Homo sapiens: one gene and its partners. The protein of the gene in region 1 interacts with the protein of each later gene in a biochemical or structural test. Each region holds a gene or a part of one and is shown in the gene's direction. Other genes may lie near its edges. The genes, in order: ANXA2, TNC, FBXW10 and MYOC.

Region 1 (5,077 bases):
GACTTACTCTAACAATGCTGGCTGCAAGTGACAACATAAAATTTCTGTATTCCTTTATTTTAGCGAGAATTGTTTAACAAAGAAATTTCTAATCTGTTAAAATAGTGAGTGGTTATTGTAGAAAGTGAAAAATAATAATAAGAAAAAGTTACTTTATCTACCCACAGCAAAAGGCAATTGCCAGTTTTAGTATTTTGGCATATTCTATTGCTGCCTCTTCCTATTCACTACTTTTTTTTTTTTTTGAGATGGGGTCTTACTCTGTCGTCCAGGCTGGAGTGCAGTGGCGCGATCTCGGCTCACTGCAAGCTCCACCTCCCAGGTTCACGCCATTCTCCTGCCTCAGCCTCCCAGGGTAGCTGGGACTACAGGCGCCCGCTACCATGCCCAGCTAATTTTTTGTATTTTTAGTAGAGATGGGGTTTCACTGTGTTAGCCAGAATGGTCTTGATCTCTTGACCTCGTGATCTGCCTGCCTTGGCCTCCCAAAGTGCTGGGATTACAGGCGTGAGCCACTGTGCCCAGCCCCTATTCACTACTTAAAAAAAAAAACCATATTAACAGTTGAACTCCAACATGCCAGTTCCACCATCTTGTGCTCTGGTGAAGCATTTTTTAAAGGAATAGAAAATGCCATTACTTTGTGCTAAGGGGTAGGAGTATAGATTCTTCAGAAGGAATGTAGAAAGCAGGATGCTAACAGACCCAATCCATGTTTGCAATTTACTTGATGGAGATCAGAGAAGTAGGCTAATGGTGGGGAAGCATTTCCCTGCTGATGTTCGTGCTTCCTGGTTCACAGGGGCTGGGAACCGACGAGGACTCTCTCATTGAGATCATCTGCTCCAGAACCAACCAGGAGCTGCAGGAAATTAACAGAGTCTACAAGGAAAGTGAGTAGCTTGATTTCTGTGATTCATCCTCTCAGCCCAATTTATGTGACTCTATCATGGCCACTGGGGTTAGGGTTCGGGCTAAGATGCCTGCATTAGTGATGTGCAGAAGTGCCTGCCACCTTGACTATGCAGGCAAGGTTGGCTGTGGTCCAAGTTTCTCTCCTTCACCTCCTCATTGCCTGCATTTTGATTATTACATTCCACTAGAACTTCTGTGTTAGAAGAAGGGTAGACAGGAGGGAAAGGAGAGAAAACAAAACTTGTTTTTAAACAAGATCGGATGAGGAGAAGTAGCAAGTATTATATATGGATTCCACTTATTGGGCGCTGTTCAGTGTCTGCTCAAGAGGTTGCCAACTCTGGACTGTGGATAATTGAAGAATTACAGCAAGAGACCCCTGTGGACTGGTGCACACTTAGCAGTATAGAAGGCTATGAGGGGAATAAACAATGCAACTTACATCGCTACTGCATTTCTTTTTTGTTTTACTTTTTAAAGTTATTATCATAGTTTTACATATTTTGGGGGTACATGTGATATTTTGGTACATGTATTATATATAATATGTAATTATCAAGTCAGGGTAATTGAGATATCCATCACCTCACACATTTATCTTTTTTTTTGTATCAGGAACATTACAGTTCTTCTCTAGCTACTGTATTTCAATATAGATGCTATTTTGAATATTGAAATATACTTTCATTCAAAAGCATTGTTTAATTCTTAGTAGTTTTTGCCGCTGTGCATTTTCTCAGTGGACAGTAAAGCACAATTGTGTGTGTGTGTGTGCGTGTGTAGACCTCCAATTTTTTTGATGTTCAGAACAAGTACTCACAGTCAGGAGGGCTGGGAGCCAGTATTTAAACTACACGAGAGGTCACCAATCAACGGTGAGCCTGAGGATCCCTGATTTGATCTAGCCCTGCTGCCCCCTGTTATGGATAATAACTCTGGCTCTGATTTCATGAGGGCGAAAATCATTCTAGTGAATCCTTCCTCTGTTTGGGGTTAAGGAGAATGGATATGTCCAGCTGACGTAGCTGTTCTGCTTCTCAGAGTCTTAGTGGGAAATGGGGAGATTGGGGTGGATGGTTGGCTACACAGGCAGAAAGCATAAAACCAGATGTATTTTCCTCCAAGTGTACAAGACTGATCTGGAGAAGGACATTATTTCGGACACATCTGGTGACTTCCGCAAGCTGATGGTTGCCCTGGCAAAGGTTGGTTTCCCAGTTTCTTTCTTTGCCCTTGCTTCCTCCCAAGGCAAGTCACATACCTCATTTTATACTTGGAGTGAATTAACTAAATCCCCTGTGCCTGCATCAGAAATTCAGCTGCATTTTTGAAAGTGGGTTTGCACTGTCACTGCAGAGTTGTCAATTTTGTATAATAGGATTTCTTATCCTGCAAAACCTCATGGACAAGTGGACTTTGGGAGCCAGAGAAGGGATGGGCGGCTCTCAAGTCCTGGCCTGGATTTATGTGCCAGAGCCTTGGCCGTGTGACTTAGGGAAGGTCACTTTGCCTCTATCTGTGGTCATGCAGGACCCAGTGGGAAGTGACCTTCTGGTTTCTTTTTCACTGCGTTTACTTCTCATGGAAGAATTTGCCCATATAGTCCTTTGTCTGGGGTGGAGTTGTCTTTGTGGAGCTGATTGCTAATATTAACACATTAACATGGAGGAAGGGGCATTTCCCCTGTGAATCCCTAGTTCTGGCCAGCGTGTAGCTTAATACTTATGTGCCAGGGGAGGGACGAGAGACCCTGGGAACCCTGATGACAAATGACAGATAGTGCGTCCGGCCCACTCACATCTCCATTACTGCAACAACTCCTATGCCATTCTCCCTCGCTCTCCTCTCTTCGCTACCACCTGCCCCATGTACCACCATCCACGGATCTCTGTGAAATACACTTTCACCATTTTACTCCTCTGTTCAAACCCCATTTCTGCTGCATCAAATTTAAACTCCTAACTGCTGTGAAAGGTCCTCTAAACCCTCCCTGCATCTTCTTTGCTCATCTTTCCCGCTCAGCTCTGCTCTGACAGGGCAGCTCCTTACTTACCTGAGAGCGTGCTGTGCCATCCCTTGTGTGCCAGCTGGCTCTCCCGCTCTGCTTGGCTAGCTGCATCTGACTGACCCTTGAAGTTTCAGCTTAAGCCCAGGCCCATCGTTCACACTCTTTGCTGACTCTGCCCTCTGAGAGTTCTTCCTCCGCCCGCATTTTGTGTCTTTCTAGTGCTGTGGGTTCCCGGGCTGCTTTACATTTGTTTCCACATATTCCTCCATCTGCATTGCAAGCTCTCTGTGAGAAAGAGCTAAATCTCATCAGCTTTTTGTGGGGGATGGGGACAGGGATTCTGTAAGGTGTGTAGGCCAGGACTGGGTATCAAGGGGGGGATTGTTGATGGCAAGGCACAGCCCCCACTTCCTTGCTCAATGATTTTACCACTCCTTGGCTGGTCTAGGTTTCTTTTTCTTTTTCTTTTCTTTCTTTCTTTTTTTTTTTTTTTTTTGAGACAGAGTCTCACTCTGTCACCAGGGTTGGAGTGCAGTGGCGTGATCTCAGATCACAGCAACCTGGTTCAAGCGATTCTCCTGCCTCAGCCTCCCGAGTAGCTGGGACTACAGGCATGTGCCACCACGCCTGGCTAATTTAGTAGAGACAGGGTTTCACCTTGTTAGCCAGGTTGGTCTCCATCTCCTGACCTCGTGATCTGCCCGCCTTGGCTTCCCAAAGTCCTAGGATTACAGGCGTGAGCCACCGTGCCCGGCCCCATCTATGTTTCAAAGTAAGAAAAATCTTACGTGGTTACTTATTTAGGAAATTAAATAATGGCGTACATGGACTGGGGAGAAAACATTTTCAGTTTTAAAATACACAAAGAAATGTATTTGAAGTTCTTTTTCTTTCCCCCATAGGGTAGAAGAGCAGAGGATGGCTCTGTCATTGATTATGAACTGATTGACCAAGATGCTCGGGTAAGTGCTGAGCTTTTTGCTTTGAGTTTTTGTTTTCTGGTAAGTCTCTGGATAGTCTATATAGTAATTTAACTCTGTGTGACAAATGACTCCCAAACTCTGTGGCTTAAAACAACAAACATGTATTATTTCTCAGTTTCTGTGTGTCAGGAATTGAGGAGTAGATTAGCCCAATTGTTCTGGCTCAGGGTCTTTTCTGAGGTTGCAGACAAAATGTTGCATGGCTGCAGTCACCTGAGGGCTTGACTGGGTCAAGGGAATCTGCTTCCAAGATGGTGCACTTCACATGACTGTTGGTAGGAGACCTTAGAATCGCTCCACATATGCCTCTCCATGGGGTTGTTTGAGCGTCCTCACAACATGGCAGCCGGCTTTCCCCAGAGCAAGCAATCTGCAAAGAGGAAGCCACAGTGTCTTTTATGACCTAACCTCAGGAGTCCCACCTTGCACTGCTGTCATACTCTTTTCATTAAAAGTGAGTCACTGAGTCTAGCCCACACTCAGTGGGAGGGGATTAGGCTCTTCCTTTGGAAGGGAGGAACCTCAAAGAATTTCTGGCCGTATTTTAAACCCACCATAGTCTGACAGCAATGTTTATTAGAAGACATTCTCTTATAATGCTGGTGTTACTTACAGAATCAATACGTGACTCACATATGCTCACTCAGGCTTTGCTTGTATGGAAGCATCAGTTTCTGCAGAGTGTAATGTGGCTGTGCATACCAATCAGGCAGGCAGGTGGGAAGCAGAAGAAGGTGGAGGAGACACAGCCAGGGACAGGATGGTGTACTGCTCTGTTGTGGTGGGGGAGAAAGGGAGGCCAGCAGAGACCTGTCCTTTTCTGGCTGAATAAGACTTTTGCCAGTTCTAGTTCCATTATCTCTGAGAACTATTTGTTAAGCTTATTCAGACTGCAATGAACTATATTCTTTACTCAGAGGGACAACGATTATCTCAAAGTAAGTCATAAAAGCTGCAGAAAAAAATTAATTTAAATTAATGTTAGTTTTAAAATTCAATATATTCCACACGGCACTTCTAGCAGGTAGTAGAGAAGGGTTTTAAATAAAGTAATAGAAGTTGGGTTTTGCAGTTCCTAGATGGTGGAAGATCACGGAATGAATATCTACCCTTGCATAAGCCTTTCTTCCTCTTGCCCTCCCTGCCATTGTTAGGGCTACTTGTAGCCCCT
Region 2 (5,077 bases), on another chromosome or scaffold:
AACGGACCCACCATGGGCAGACGCACCATTAGCACAGTCCCCAAAGGAGATGCCCAGGACTGTGGGATGGTCTTGTGAAGGTCGATGCACAGATATTGCAGAGGAATGCTTTAACTTCTAGGTAGGTTACTATTTTCTTAAATCTCCTTAGGGAATACAGAATTTTCAAACTAAAAGGGCTTACGGGCAGCCTCTAAGCCAGAATCTTGCAGACTGGATTTTAAAAAGAATTTAAAAAGATTTGGGGGCTGCTGTGGAGAGACAGGGAGGCCAAGCAGGGGATTCCCCTCAACCTTATTTCAATGAAAGCCCCTCCACTTATCTATTTTGTACACTGAGCCTCCTCATGAAATTTTATTTGATGAAAGGGCTCTGTGCAGAAAAAACAGAATGTTTTTGTAAATTGCTGGCCTAGGTTAGCATACCTCATTTTAAAGAGGGTGAAACTGAGACATAGAGAAGGGAAAGATCTTTCTAAGATCTTCCGCCAGTTGGCAACAGGGTCAGGTTGGAATCCTAGGTCTTCTGACTCTTGCTCTTGGAAGCCAGGGACAATCTTAAAAGTTTCAGAATTAAGACATTCTTTTAGAAAAGAAAAATGAGCAGAGTCTTATTCTCTCAACAGCCTTAACTCACACGGACCGAGCCAAGGATGACTAGTATCTCCGTATTCATTATCTATTACTGCATACCAAATTACTTTAAATCAACACTCATTTATTATCTCATGGTTTCTAGAGGTCTAAGCACAGCTTAGTTGGATTTTCTGCCTCATGGTCTCTCATGAGGTTATTGTCTGTGTTGGACAGGGTTGATGTCTCATCTAAAGGCTGAATTGGGGGATGATTAGCTTCCAAGCTTGTTGATGTGGTTGTTGGCTGGACTCCATTTCTTGAGAGATATTGAACTGAGGGCCTCAGTTCCTTCAAAGCTGTTGGTCCAAGGCTACCCTCAGTTCCTTGCCACATGGGCTTCTCCAACAAGGCCATTTACATTAACAAAGCCAATGAGAAAGAGAGTTACCGGGCATGGTCGCTCACACCTCTTAATCCCAGCACTTTGGGAGCCCGAGGCGGGTGGATCACTTGAGGTTAGGAGTTCGAGACCAGCCTGGCCAATATGCTGAAACCCCGTATCTACTAAAAATACAAAAAAATTAGCCTGGCATGGTGGTGGGCACCTGTAATCCCAGCTACTCAGGAAGCTGAAGCAGGAGAATCACTTGAACTTGGGAGTCGTAGGTTGCAGTGAGCCAAGATCGAGCCATTCCACTCCAGCCTGTGCAACAAGAGCGAGATTCCATCTCAAAAAAAAAAAAAAAAAAAAAAAAAAGAGAGAGAGAGAGAAAGTCTATAAGCAAGAGGCACATCACAATCCTGTGTAACCTAATCATGGAAGGGATATTCCATCACCTTAGTCATATTCTGTTTGTTAGAAGAAAGTCACTGGGCCATCCCACACTCAAGGGGAGGTAATTGCACACGTATGAGAATGCCGGGAGGCAGTATCAATGGGGCCACCTTAGAGTCTGCCTGCCACAGCCTCCAGCACTCCAGTGTCACCAATTTCTGGCAACCTCTTATCAATGACAAGTTCACTCAACCCTTCAGTACCCTCACTGATGAGTAATAAAAAAATTGATCGAGACCATGGTGAAACCCCGTCTCTACTAAAAATACAAAAAATTAGCTGGGTGTGGTGGCGGGCACCTGTAGTCCCAGCTACTCAGGAGGCTGAGGCAGGAGACTGGCGTGAACCTGGGAGGCGGAGCTTGCAGTTAGCCGAGATCACACCACTGCACTCCAGCCTGGGCAACACAGTGAGACTCTGTCTCAAAAAAAAAAAAAAAAAAATTCTGGCAGCCACTAAAGTGGACTAGTTTTTATTTAACATCCTCCCATGTATATAGTGGAGCCAAGTGTTTTGATTAGTTGTTTTAACTCATTGGTTAGCCATAATTTCTCTTGAATTTCACCCCAGGGAGGGGCCTTTCACGGCAATGATTCCAAATGTATTTTATTCTAAAGCAAGACAGTCAGTGTGACCAAAACTAAAACTCATCCATTGTTCCTCCCTCAATCTATTCCTCTCAGCAGATATAATGAATAGTAACATCTTCGATTAATTCTTTTTTCTTTACTAACCCCACACACAAAATGTTGTAGTCTCTACTGCCTTGACAAGCAAATCTGTTCACTGCCTCCCCACTTTCTTGATCACCACCCCCTGCCCCACCTCCATTACCCCTGTAGTTCAGATCTTAGCATCTCACAGATGGGCCACTGCAACAGCTTTCCCACTGGCCCCCAGCAACCCAGCCTTCCCCTTCTTCAACCTGAGACATAGAGGTTAACATTCCTGGGCCTCAAGATTTCCAAATGCTTTTCTTCTGCCTGCAAAAAAGTCCAGATATTCTGACATTCAAGATTCTCCATGATCTTGCTTCTGGTCTCTAAACAGATCCTGTACTTCAGCTGTCATTCATACTGTTCACATCAACCCTTTTATTCTTTTTATATCCTTGTAAATGCCATTCCCTCGTGCCTAGAATATCCTTTTTTATGTTTTTCACCTATTCATATTTTTCTCTCAAAATTCAGTTCAGGCACCACTTCCTCCAGGTAAATTAGATGCCCTTTTACTGTCATCTCATTCTACCTATGTTTCTTTTTTTAAATCTATCATCTCCTTTATCATCCTGGAATGGCCTGTCTGCCCCTCTTGACAATATAGTTCCTAAAAGAAAAAATTGTATCTGGTTTATCTGAAACCTAGCACAACTGGAATAAAGTTAATCTTTAGCAATTAATAGGAGTCCTTGCTGTGTCCCAGATTTGGACATCCTCTTCCTTAGCAGTTTGCTCAGAAAGCCCAGAGCTTGAAGTTGTTTTCACGCTTCACCCACTGGCTTGCAAGTATGCAGTGTGATGACACAACATGTGATAGGAGGAAACCATCCCAGCCCTAGGACAGGAAACTGTCTCAGGACACAGACCTCAAGGAATGTGTTTGCTTTCAGAGGTGGCCTTCAGGATAAAAACACAAATTGCTTTGGATTTGGAAAAACCAGTACCAAGGACAGAGGAGTCCTGTCTGGGGATTTGAGGCTGAGTCACAAGAGATAGCTGAAAATCTGGAGGTTATAACAAAGATTAGTCAACAACTAATAGGAGGAAAGAACAGGCTCAAGGGTGGGATGGAGACAAAGAGCTCTCTATCTTAGGACATGGAGAAGCTCACAGCCCACAAGAAGAAATGAATAATGGTTAAGAGTATGACTTTGGCATAAGAATCCTCTGGGTTTGAGAGGTATTTGCTTGCTATGTGATCTTGGCCAAGTTACTTAGCTTCTTTAAGCTAATTTCTTCTTATCCATATTAAAAGCAAAGTAGTAGCACCTAGTTTAAAGTTTATTGTGATGATTAAATGATGTAGTTCATGAACACTGCTTAGCACAGAAACTGGCATTCAATATAAATGTTTTGTTGTTGTCATTGTTTTGTTACCTGTTGATCAAATAGTTCTTGATGATAAGATCCCACTAGAGAAGCAGTTCCCAAAAGTGTGTCATGTGGAAAAGCATTCTCATGGGAATCACCTAAAAAAGGGTTTTGTGGCCAAATGAGTTTGGGAAACACTTGGTACTCTTCTGTTCTTGGAAATGCACAGCTCATATGTCCATTCAATACATAGTTTTAGGGCTGGTGATACAATAGAAAGCAATACAGTCAAGATCCTTTTATTCATGGTGTTTACATTATGGTGGCATATCTTAGTTTGTACAAGCTGCTACAACAAAATACCATAAACTGAGTGACTTACAAACAACAGAAATTACTTTCTCACAGTTCTGGAGGCTGGGAAGTCCAAGATCAAGATGGCACCTTATATGTCCTCACATGGCAGAAGACATAAGGCAGCTCTATGGGGTCTCTTTTAATAAGGGCACAAATTCTATTTATGAAGCCTCTGCCCTCATGATCTAAGTACCTCCCAAAGACTCTGCCAACTAATATTGTCACACTGGTGATTATGTTCCAATGTGTGGATTTTGAGGGAACACAAACATTCAGACCATAGCAGGGGGAAGGCAGACAATAAAAAGGAATCACATAAACTTATAGCACAATTTCAGGTAGTGATATTTGCTAAGAAGAAAGACAAAACAAGGTAAGGGCATAAACAATGACTGGTGGTGAGAGGAGTGCTCTTTTAGATGGGGTGAGAGGTGAATGTGCCATTGTGCAGATGTCTGAATGAAATGAGAGAAGGAGCTCTGTAGGCAATGGCTAGGAGTTTGAATTTCATTCTGAGTGTGGTTAGAAGCCAATGGATGGTTCAGGGAAGTAGAGTGCATCATCTGAGATATCTTGCTGTAATTAATCTGTTCAACTTTCGTTAGCCCAGTATCTCCAAACATACCTGACCATAGGACATCTACCTAAAAACATCTTGCAACGTAGTCTGGGAAATTCTTCACTGGAGCACAAGGCTTCATAGATTTTAAAGGGACTGCAAATTTGCTCTTGTTCATCTAGATCTGCACTAAAAATCCAAACATACTGCTTGGGACAAAATAGGCATGCCCAGGAAGGAAAACCTAGCTCTAGAGGTAGAGACAAGCAGGATGTCATCCTAATTAGCAGCTCTTTTTGGCAAAGACAATCAATGAGCACAGCCAGGCCTCAGCAGATTCTGGAAGCCCATTTGATGCCAACGGAAACTCGCCAATATCTACCCAAGGCTAATAAGTGTTTGCAAACAGTACACCTTGGCTTAAGTATTCTCCAAAAAGGAAGTACATAAAACTTGAGATCCAGCCAGAGGTTCTGGGAGAAAAACAGAGGTCAAATATTTTGGTGCTTACATGTGCACAGCCACCAAAGAGCTGCTGAAGGTCTAGGAAATGGAAAGTGAGTTCATCCACTTGAATGCTGATCTCTTTCTTTATGGAGCAGTAAAAATTTAAGTTTTTACCTTATCTGAACTAAGAAAATTCCTTTAGGAGTCAGCCCAGTGTAGCTCAATGTAGTTGAAAGCAGACATTTTAGAACCACAAATAAATCAGGATTCAAAA
Region 3 (5,077 bases), on another chromosome or scaffold:
AAAATCTTTCAAATGCCAGAAAATGTATAGAGAAAGGCAAAGTTTTCCTGTAGTCTATCACCTAGCAATAACCACCATTAATATTGATGTCTACCCTTCTAGAATTCTTTTCTTTGCATACTTAGCACATATTTTAGTAGAAGTGGTGTTATATTACACATATTTCTGTAACCCAGCCCAGCAAAGTACTATAGATATCTTCCCATGGTAAATATGACAATCGTATTTATAATTGCATACTCTGACATCATTTCAATATGCTGAGAGACGAAGTTCCTTTAATAAGCAACTTTCTGCCATATTTTGGGCCTAGGACTTCACTTTATATTCACAAGGTTTTGCAAAGTCCACTTCTACTTTATTTTTGGCCATGAATCTTATTAACAAATTGCATCTTGATAATAGAACAGTCGGTATGGGGAAGACAGAACAGATAAGACAGGGGAAAGGCAAAGTTGAGTTTTTATGCTTAGTGTGGTGATAACTGCTCTTTAGAAGAGATGGTGACTAGTTGAATTCTAGGTATGACCAACGGAATAAGGGCAAAAATGTCAAGAATTGCTCCTTATATATATGTGTGTACATATACACACACACATATATATATACACATATACACATATGTACATGTATATATATACATAAAAATATATGTATATACACACACACATATATATGTAGTTTAAAGAACAATTATCACCATACTATCTGTATTTCTTTTTTCAGAGTGAACCTCATTCTGTCGTCCAGGCTGGGCTGCAGTGGTGCAATCTTGGCTCATTGTAACCTCCACCTCCTGGGCTCAAGCGATTCTCCTGCCTCAGTCTCCTAAGTAGCTGGGACTATAGGCACATGCCACCATGCCTGGCTAATTTCTGAATTTTTTTGTAGAGACGGGGTTTCGTTCTCTGGTCAGGTTGGTCTCAAAGCTCCTCATATTTAGAGTGACTATACATCCCTGTTTATTGGAACAATCCCTCTCTAGTCTGCAGTCCTAGTGTCATTAATAATAGTGTCCCCAGGTTGGGCGTGGTGGCTCATGCCTGTAACCCCAGAACTTTGGGAGGCTGAGGTAGGAGGATCGCTTGAGGCCAAGAGTTGGAGGTTACAGGGAGTTATTATTGCGCCCCTGTACTCCAGCCTGGGTGACAGAGCAAGACCTTGTCTCTAAAAATAAATAAATAGTGTCCCCTTTCACAATAAAAAACTCTCAGTTTGGACAATACATTATTTGGTCATCCTGTTCATACTTTACCTATTTGCTAATAATCCTATGATTGAAAGACTAATTCAACTCACCTAGTTTTATGGGACAATAAGCTCATTGTAAGTAAGGTCCTTATCTGATAATTATTTATATTTCCTGTGGTATCTACTAGCACAGGACTTTGAACCTAATATATGCTCACTGGATATTGATTAAGGGAAAAAACAAAAGAAAAGAAATACAGTGTGCACAGGACTTCCCAACTGTGTTCCTCTGACGTTTTCCAAGAAAAAAGGTTTCCGTGATCAATTAAATCCGGGCAATGCCACATACTCCATTCTCTCTCTTGGGGATTTAGCATACATTTACAGAATTGTTAAAAAATTGCCTTGTGTCTCTAGTTTTTAAATTTAACGGAAATGGATTTTTGTCATCGTGTGAGAGTGGGGATCCCTCAAGGCCTGTTAATTCTCGACCTTGCCTTCTGCTGCCTCCCTTGTTGAAAGGCCCTGGATTTTCCTTTACACCACTGCTGTAGGCAAAAGTCATGGGGCTAAGTCAGTCCCAGGAGGGACACTGACTCTTCTTTCATGGATAATCCTTTTCCCCTGGCACTCAGGTGGGATCAAAACCGAGTCATCCACTATTCCGGGGGAGATCTGATAGCTGTGTCATCTAATCGAAAGATCCATCTTCTGGACATCATACAAGTGAAAGCGATACCCGTTGAATTCCGAGGCCATGCTGGGAGTGTCCGGGCCCTCTTCCTGTGTGAGGAGGAAAACTTTCTCCTAAGCGGGAGCTATGACCTAAGTATCAGGTGAGGAGTCCAAAGGCATCATGATCCCTGTCCCACCTAGGGCCTAGAGGCAGCTCATGGAAGAAGTGTGCATGCTTCTTCTTTTTATATTTAACAGTTTTCCTAGAAGATACTGACTTCTAGAATACCTTCAGCTTTTTTTTGGCAAGGAAAAAGTCAGGAATGTATATATTGCTTAAAATTTGAATGAGATGGATTTATAACAGTTATCAGATATATTTTCTAATTGATGACTGCAAATCAGAAAAATTTTCTTTATTAGCATTCTTAGAGGAAGAAATAATTTACATTTGTTCTTACAGACTCTTTCAGGGGAACGTGGTTTTTATGGGTTTGAGACAGACTATAGAGGCAAAATAGTGCTTTAAAAACACATACGTGGCCAGGCGCGGTGGCTCACGCCTGTAATCCCAGCACTTTGGGAGGCTGAGGTGGGCAGGTCACGAGGTCAGGAAATCAAGACCATCCTGGCTAACATGGTGAAACCCCGTCTCTACTAAACAAAATACAAGAAATTAGCTGGGCGTGGTGGCGGGTGCCTGTAGTCCCAGCTACTCGGGACGCTGAGGCAGGAGAATGGTGTGAACCTGGGAGGTGGAGCTTGCAGTGAGCCGAGATGGTGCCACTACACTCCAGACTGGGCGACACAGCGAGACTCCATCTCAAAAAAAACCACATATGTATATTTTTAAACAATATAACAAACACTCATGCATCCATTACTCAGGCCAAGAAATAAGATACCACCATTCCCCAACCCTCCCACTGTGCCCTTCTCTTCTTGCTTCTTCCTGCCAACCAGAGGTAATATTATTCTAATTTTATACTAATGATTCCCTTGCATTTCTTAATCATTTTTGCTTCCTTCTTATACATCTCCAGAAGTATTAGTTACTTGTGCCTGTTTTTGAACTCAACATAAAAAGAATCATATTTTAAAAATTTGTTGGTACCTCATTCTTACATGGAACTGTTTTTGAGATTCACCTATATGATGCAGGTGGCAGTAATTAACTTATTTTCACTGAGATACTGTATTAAATTGGATGATTGTATCGTAACTCATTTATTTGTTTTTCTGTTGGTGGACATTTGCATTGTTTCTAGTTTTTTGTTTTTTTTTTTGAGATGGAGTCTCACTGTGTCACCCAGGCTGGAGAGCAGTGGCGCCATGTTGGCTCACTGCAAGCTCCACCTCCCAGGTTCACACCATTCTCTTGCCTCAGCCTCCCAAGTAGCTGAGACTACAGGGGCCCGCCACCACACCAGGCTATTTTTTTTTGTATTTTTTAGTAGAGAAGGGGTTTCCCCATGTTAGCCAGGATGGTCTCGATCTCCTGACCTCGTGATCCACCCGCCTCGGCCTCCTAAAGTACTGGGATTACAGGTGTGAGCCACCGCGCCGGGCCCTTGTTTCTAGTTTTTAATTATTTCAAAGAATGCTGCCAGAGACGGGTCTTGGATGTGTCCCCTGGTGCCCATGTGCACGAGTTTTTTAAAGGTATATTCTTAGTATGGGAATTTCTAGGAAGGAGTACTAAACTGTTTTCCAATGTGGTTGTATTAATTTACATTCCCATTAGCAGCATATGAGAATATCTCTTCTTATATATTCTCACCAACACTTACTATTGACAGTCTAACAGTTTTGTCAATCTGATGGGTATTAAATGAAACCCACTGTGTTTTATTGGGGTTTAAATTTTAACTTTCCTGATTACTAATGAAGTTGAACACCTTTTCATATGTGTATTAGTCAGGGTCTCCAGAGAAACAGAACCAATACAATGTGTATATACATAGGAGATTTACTATAAAGTATTGACTTGTGTGATCAAGGTGGCTGGCAAGTCCAAAATCTGCAGCGTGGGGCCAGCAGGCTGGAGACCCAGGAGAGCCAACGGTGCAGATGAAGCCCAAAGGCCATCTGCCAGAGAATACCCTCTTGCCAGGACTATCTATTAACTGTGTTCATAGTATCTACATGAATTTTGTTGAACAAAAATTCTCAATATGGGCCAGGCGCGGTGGCTCATGCCTGTAAGCCCAGCACTTTGGGAGGCTGAGGCAGGCGGATCATCTGAGGTCGGGAGTTTGAGACCAGCCTGACTAACATGGAGAAACCCCGTCTCTACTAAAAATACAAAATTAGCTGGGCATGGTGGCACATGCCTGTAATCTCAGCTACTCAGGAAGGCTGAGGCAGGAGAATCACTTGAACCTGGGAGGTGCCACTGCACTCCAGCCAGGGCAACAAGAGCGAAACTCGGTCTCAAAAAAAAAAAAAAAATCTCAATATGAATGTAATAAAATATCAGTTTATCAGGGTTTTTTTTTTCTTCATTTCTGTGATTCTTCCCTCTTCTAGGTCATAGAGATATTTTCTAATATTTTCTTCTATCAACATTACAGTTTTATCTTTTGCATTCAGTTTTTTAATCTCTTTGCAATTCAACCTTGTATGTGGCATTAGGTAGGGTTTCCATTTCATTTATTCATATTTAGATAAAGTGAGCAGTTTCTCCCCCACAGCAACTACTATATAACCTGCCACTTCCTGCATTGATTTGAGGTGCTATCTTTATCACATTGAAATTTCCCATATGTGCATGAGAATGTCCCTGAGTTCTCTGATCTAGTCCACTGCCTTTCTGTTTTTAATCAAAATCCCCCTCCTTGAAAACTGTTTGTTTTGTTTTTAGGTATGCATTTGGAGAATGTTTTAAAATGTGACGGGGAGGGAAATTCTACTTTTCACTTTTCTTTTTTTTTTTTTTTAAGACGGAGTCTCGCTCTCTCGCCCAGGCTAGAGTGCAGTGGCGCGATCTCAGCTCACTGCCAGCTCCGCCTTCCGTGATCATGCCATTCTCCTGCCTCAGCCTCCCGAGTAGCTGGGACTACAGGCACCCGCCACCACGCCTGGCTAATTTTTTGTATTTTTAGTAGAGACAAGGTTTCTCTGTGCTAGCCAGGATGGTCTCGATCTCCTGACCTCGTGATTCGCCCGCCTCGGCCTCCCAAAGTGCTGGGATTACAGGCATGAGCCACCG
Region 4 (5,077 bases), on another chromosome or scaffold:
AAAGAAAAGAAATTTGAGTTGTCCTGAGGCAGAGTCTGCAGTGATCCAAGAAGAGGTACAGATGAAAGGAAACCAGCTCAATTCAAGGAACTTGCTTAATGCCCTGATTTTGAAAAATTGTCCTGGCAAGACTTTGCCACATCGAATGAGCCTCTGCACATTGCAGGAGGCTGGCAGGGCCAGGGAGCGGTGGGCTGCTCCTAACAGCCTGGGTGTGTGTTCTGGGCCTAAGAGAGAAGGCATGGCAATCGGCGAGGCAGCATCAGAGAGGAAGGTTACAGATGGTTCTGCCACCTGTGTACAGGAAGGCGGTCACTCTCTCTTACCTCTCCCTGGCAGCACAGAAGAACAGGGAACCTCGGGCACCCTGTCCCTCTCCCCCATAGGCAGCACCAAGTCCCTGCCGGAGGTGTGTGTTGCCTGCACAGGGGGAGAAGGGAAGCAGCTGGTACTGGTCTCAGGTCGATCTAAGGAAACTCCATTTGACCTAGTGAATCAGTCCCTGCCCTGGATACCCTCCTAGGCCAATGCAACCTTTAGAATGAAGAACAAAGGGGTTTCCTCACCCCTGCACAACCTCAGATAGGGAGAAGGAGACGCAGGGAATGAAATAAAAGTTTCCAGGACTCTCCAGGAGCCATTCAGATTGTCCAAGAAACTGGTTTCCGCAGCAGCCTGGAATAAACCCATTTTCCTTCTCGGGTATGAGGACTTTGCCAGATTATGATTTCCTTAAGGGCATGGACTGATTGTGTCTTTTTTTTTTTTTTTTTAAACATAGACTAGCCTATTAGACAAACTTGTGTCTTAGACACCTTTTTTTCTTGAGCACCTAGCACAGCCTTGCACTCAATAGGTGCTCCAATGATGTGACTAAAAGGATGGATAAATAGCTCTGTGGATTTGAGGCTAGGAATAATGAAGGCCTGCCATGTCCCGGGGGGTACTCCCAATTGCCCCTGGAGTTTGGAATGCACATTGAGGATGTCCTCAGTTACATATACATTTTGGCTTATGAGTCTTTCTTTTTTTAATTTTTTTTTTTTTTAAGACAGGGTCTCACTCTGTCACCCAGACTGGAGTGCAGTGGCATGATCATGGCTCACTGCAGCCTTGCCCTCTTGGACTCAAGAGTCATCTTCCTGCCTCAGCCTCCCGAGTAGCTGAGACCACAGACTGCACCACCACACCCAGCTAACTCTTTAATTTTTTGTAAAGATGGGGTCTCGCTATGTTGCCCAGCCTGGTCCCAAACTCTTGGCCTCATGCAATCCTGCCACCTCGGCCTCCCAAAGTGCTGGGTTTACAGGCATGAGCCACTGCGCCTGGCCAGCTTATGGGTTTTAACTACTTACATGGTGCACTCTAGACTGAGGGATATCCCAGGGATGGAGGACCCACCCACCTCCAGGGCATTAACACTTTTAGGGAGGCTAACAACTGCAGCCACACAGAGGCAGGGGTGGAGAGGAGAGAAGGGTAGCTGGGATCAGGGGCAGGCAGCTGCAGCAGCTACTGAGCTGGCTCACTGTGGGCAGCATGGCTGTCTGGCCCAGCCTGCACCTGAGAGCTAGCTGAATGTTTTCTTCACCTCCTTCCAGGGAGAAATTTTTTCCAGTACTATAATTTGTTGAAGCTGAACCCCAGCAACTCAAACAAGGTACCCTGACTCTGGAGATGTGAAAATGTAAAATAATGTGTGGCTTTGATGAAATGTGGTAGAACCAGAGGATTAAGACTTCTGTGGTGATCCTCTCTGCCTGAAATCTAAATTTAGGAGAGCTGAGCAAACAAATGATCAAAGGCAGAACATGTCTTCCCGACCCTCTCGGCTGTGTAGGCGCTCCGGCCTCAGGGGATGCACTGACTTTCCTCCCACTGTCCTGAACACCTGAGAATCCTGAGCGGGGAACAAGTTGCTCAAAGGGCAGAGAAGTGACTCAGAGGTTCAGCAAGAGAAAAGCCCAGTGTATTAAGCATGTCTTTTTATTCTGATGCTTTGCTGTCTGGGCCTTGCAAACGTGAGAGGGACTGCCCCTCCCAGGGGTAGCCAGTTCCTACGGTTAGCAAAGGACTCACCTGGGAGGACAGCTTTCATATGCAAACCAACCAATCCAGAGCCCACACCCTGTGACCACCTCCATCTGGCTCAAACTCAAGGCCACTGTCCCCCTGACCTAATCACCCAGGGCCTGGTACCAGACAATTAGAGATAACTCCTGTGACCCCAGATCCTGCTGAAATTATTCAAACTCCCCAATCCTAAACCTGCTTACCCTGCCTCCCCTTTCTTTCCTTCCCATGGAAAGAATAAAGGCGCTTTCCCACATTTTCCCCTGGTGCCCTCTTCTGGAGCAACCCTGGTGCTTCCCCAGGTGGCCTCCTGGGCTTAGTGTGCCCCCTTCCTCTTGGGCTCTGTGAGTACAACAACTTGTAAAGATAATTTTTTTTTAGAGCAGTTTTATGTTCACAGCCAAATTGAGAGAAAAGTACAAACAGTTCCCAGATACTACTGGCCCCCACACATGCACAGCCTCCCCGATTATCATCATCTCCCGCCACAGCAGTTGTTACAACTGATGAACCTGCATCAGCACGCACAACACCCAAGGTCCACGGTTTAAATTAGGGTTCATTTTTGGTGTTGCGCCTTCTATGGGTTTAGACAAATGCATAGTGACATGTGTCCACCATTATAGTATCATACACAGTATTCATTGCCCTAAAAATCGTCTGTGCCTCACCTAGTCATCCCTTCCTCACCCAACAACTGCTGATCTTTTTACTGTCTCCATAATTTTGCTTTAACTTGCTTTTCAGTGACAATTGCCTCCTGGGATGTTGGCCTTGCCACACCTGAATAATCATCAAACCTGCATTTTATTTGTTTTTATGTGTATGTGATGGGTTTTTTGGGAGGTTGGAGGGGAGGACAGGGTCTCACTCTACGCCAGGGCTGGAGTGCAGAGGTACGATCACTGCTCACCACAGCCTTGACCTCCCGGTCTCAAGTGATCCTCCCACCTCAGCCTCCCAAGTAGCTGGGACTGCAGGTACACATCACCACCCAGGCTAACTTTTTGTAGTTTTTGTAGAGATGGGATTTCACCATGTTGCCCAGGTTTGTCTTGAACTCCTGGGCTCCAGTGATCTGTCTACCTTGGCTTCCCAAAGTGCTGGGATTACAGGTATGAGCCACTGGGCCTGGCCAAACTGCATTTTAAAATAGCCAAGCCTGTTCCTTGTGACTATTGCCTCATCCTTGTATTCAAGACTGCTGTAAGATCATAATCCTAAGCAAGAGTAGAGACATGTAGCACACCATGATCACTTACTGTCTAACCAATGCTGCCCACCCGCTTCCCTTCTGTATGGCTCACCACCCCCACCCCAAACTCCTATAGGAACTCTGCACACACTCCCTCTCCATTATGCAAAACTGGTCTCAGAAAGGAATCAGACAGAATATTTCTACTGAAAGTATAAAGCTTAATATGTTACTTCTTACAAGAATATTTGCATATAACAAGGGAAAAAACCTTAAGTCATGCAGTAAACTTTTATCTTTTTTTTTTTTTTAACAGGAGTCTCCCTATGTTGCCCAAGCTGGTCTTGAACACCTGGGCTCAAGTACTCCTCCTGTCTTGGCCTCCCAAAGTGCTGGGATTACAGACATGAGCCACACTTCTTTTTTTTTTTTTTTTTTTTTTTTTTTCTTGAGACAGAGTCTTGCTCTGTTGCCCAGACTGGAGTACAGTTGCACAATCCCGGCTCCCTGCAACCTTTGCCTCCTGGGTTCAAGTGATCCTCAACCTCCTGAGTATCTGGAACTACAGGCATGTGCCACCACACCCTGCTAATTCTTGTATTTCTAGTAAAGATGGAATTTCACCACGCTGGCCAGGCTAGTCTTGAACTCCTGGCCTTAAGTGATCCGCCTGCCTCGGCCTCCCAAAGTGCTGGGATTTCAGTGTGAGCCACTGTGCCCGGTCTCTTTTTTTTTTTTTTTGAGACCTTGAGACCGGGCCTTGCTCTGTTACCCAAGCTGGAGTGCAGTGGCAGGATCATAGCTCACTGCAGCCTTGAACTTCTGGGCTCAAGCAATCCTCCCACATCAGCCTCCCAAGTACCTAGGACTGCAGATGCTTACCACCATGCCCAGCTAATTTTTCATGAATTTTTAATTATTGAAATTCAGACATCTAAGAAGATGCTGAGGACTGTCTCCATATTCCTGAAATTACGACTCACCTATTCACAAACCAGCCCTTCTAGTGGAATTAAAATATTATTTGATTTTGAATACCCTACTCTAAGGTAGGCACATTGCCCTGCAATTTATTATTTATGAGGTTTTTAATTATGGAATTGTTCAAATATTCACAAAAGTAGAGAGACTACAATGAACTCCAATGTAGCCATCACTCAGGCCCAACTGTTATCAGCACAGTCCAATCATGTTTTATCTTCCCTTCTCTGACCCCCAACCCATCCCCAGTCCTTATCTAAAATCAAATCTCAAACACCATATCTTTGGGAGCCTATTTATTTAGTTAGTTAGTTTTCAGACAGAGTTTCTTTCTTGTTGCCCAAGCTGGAGTACAATAGTGTAGTCTCGGCTCACAGCAATCTCCCCCTCCTTGGTTCAAGCAATTCTCCTGCCTCAGTCTCCCAAGAAGCTGGGATTATAGGCACCTGCCACCACATCCAGCTAATTCTTTTGTGTTTTTAGCAAAGACAGGGTTTCACCATGTTGGCCAGGCTGGTCTCGAACTCCTGACCTCAGGTGATCCGCCTGCCTCGGCCTCCCAAAGTGCTGGGATTACAGGCATGAGCCACCACGCCTGGCCGGCAGCCTATTTAAATGTCATCCTCAACATAGTCAATCCTTGGGCCATTTTTTCTTACAGTAAAATTTTGTCTCTTTCTTTTAATGCAGTTTCTACGTGGAATTTGGACACTTTGGCCTTCCAGGAACTGAAGTCCGAGCTAACTGAAGTTCCTGCTTCCCGAATTTTGAAGGAGAGCCCATCTGGCTATCTCAGGAGTGGAGAGGGAGACACCGGTATGAAGTTAA

What was found.
Region 2: the proteins of ANXA2 (region 1) and TNC form a complex in vitro, tested with the Homo sapiens proteins (one study listed by BioGRID).
Region 3: of the proteins of ANXA2 (region 1) and FBXW10, one has a biochemical effect on the other in vitro, tested with the Homo sapiens proteins (one study listed by BioGRID).
Region 4: the proteins of ANXA2 (region 1) and MYOC interact in far-western blotting, tested with the Homo sapiens proteins (one study listed by BioGRID).

The regions. Positions count from the first base shown.
Region 1 is NC_000015.10:60,352,962-60,358,038, reverse strand, and holds part of ANXA2 (annexin A2), read left to right. Parts: intron 1-802; coding exon 803-893; intron 894-2,040; coding exon 2,041-2,120; intron 2,121-3,825; coding exon 3,826-3,885; intron 3,886-5,077. UniProt on the Homo sapiens protein: Calcium-regulated membrane-binding protein whose affinity for calcium is greatly enhanced by anionic phospholipids. It binds two calcium ions with high affinity. May be involved in heat-stress response.
Region 2 is NC_000009.12:115,107,655-115,112,731, reverse strand, and holds part of TNC (tenascin isoform 1 precursor), read left to right. Parts: intron 1-1,180; exon of another isoform or gene 1,181-1,303; intron 1,304-5,077. UniProt on the Homo sapiens protein: Extracellular matrix protein implicated in guidance of migrating neurons as well as axons during development, synaptic plasticity as well as neuronal regeneration. Promotes neurite outgrowth from cortical neurons grown on a monolayer of astrocytes.
Region 3 is NC_000017.11:18,756,479-18,761,555, forward strand, and holds part of FBXW10 (F-box/WD repeat-containing protein 10), read left to right. Parts: intron 1-1,826; coding exon 1,827-2,027; intron 2,028-5,077. UniProt on the Homo sapiens protein: Probable substrate-recognition component of a SCF (SKP1-CUL1-F-box protein)-type E3 ubiquitin ligase complex which mediates the ubiquitination and subsequent proteasomal degradation of target proteins. Overexpression is leading to degradation of CBX5 and CBX1.
Region 4 is NC_000001.11:171,638,585-171,643,661, reverse strand, and holds part of MYOC (myocilin precursor), read left to right. Parts: intron 1-4,939; coding exon 4,940-5,065; intron 5,066-5,077. UniProt on the Homo sapiens protein: Secreted glycoprotein regulating the activation of different signaling pathways in adjacent cells to control different processes including cell adhesion, cell-matrix adhesion, cytoskeleton organization and cell migration.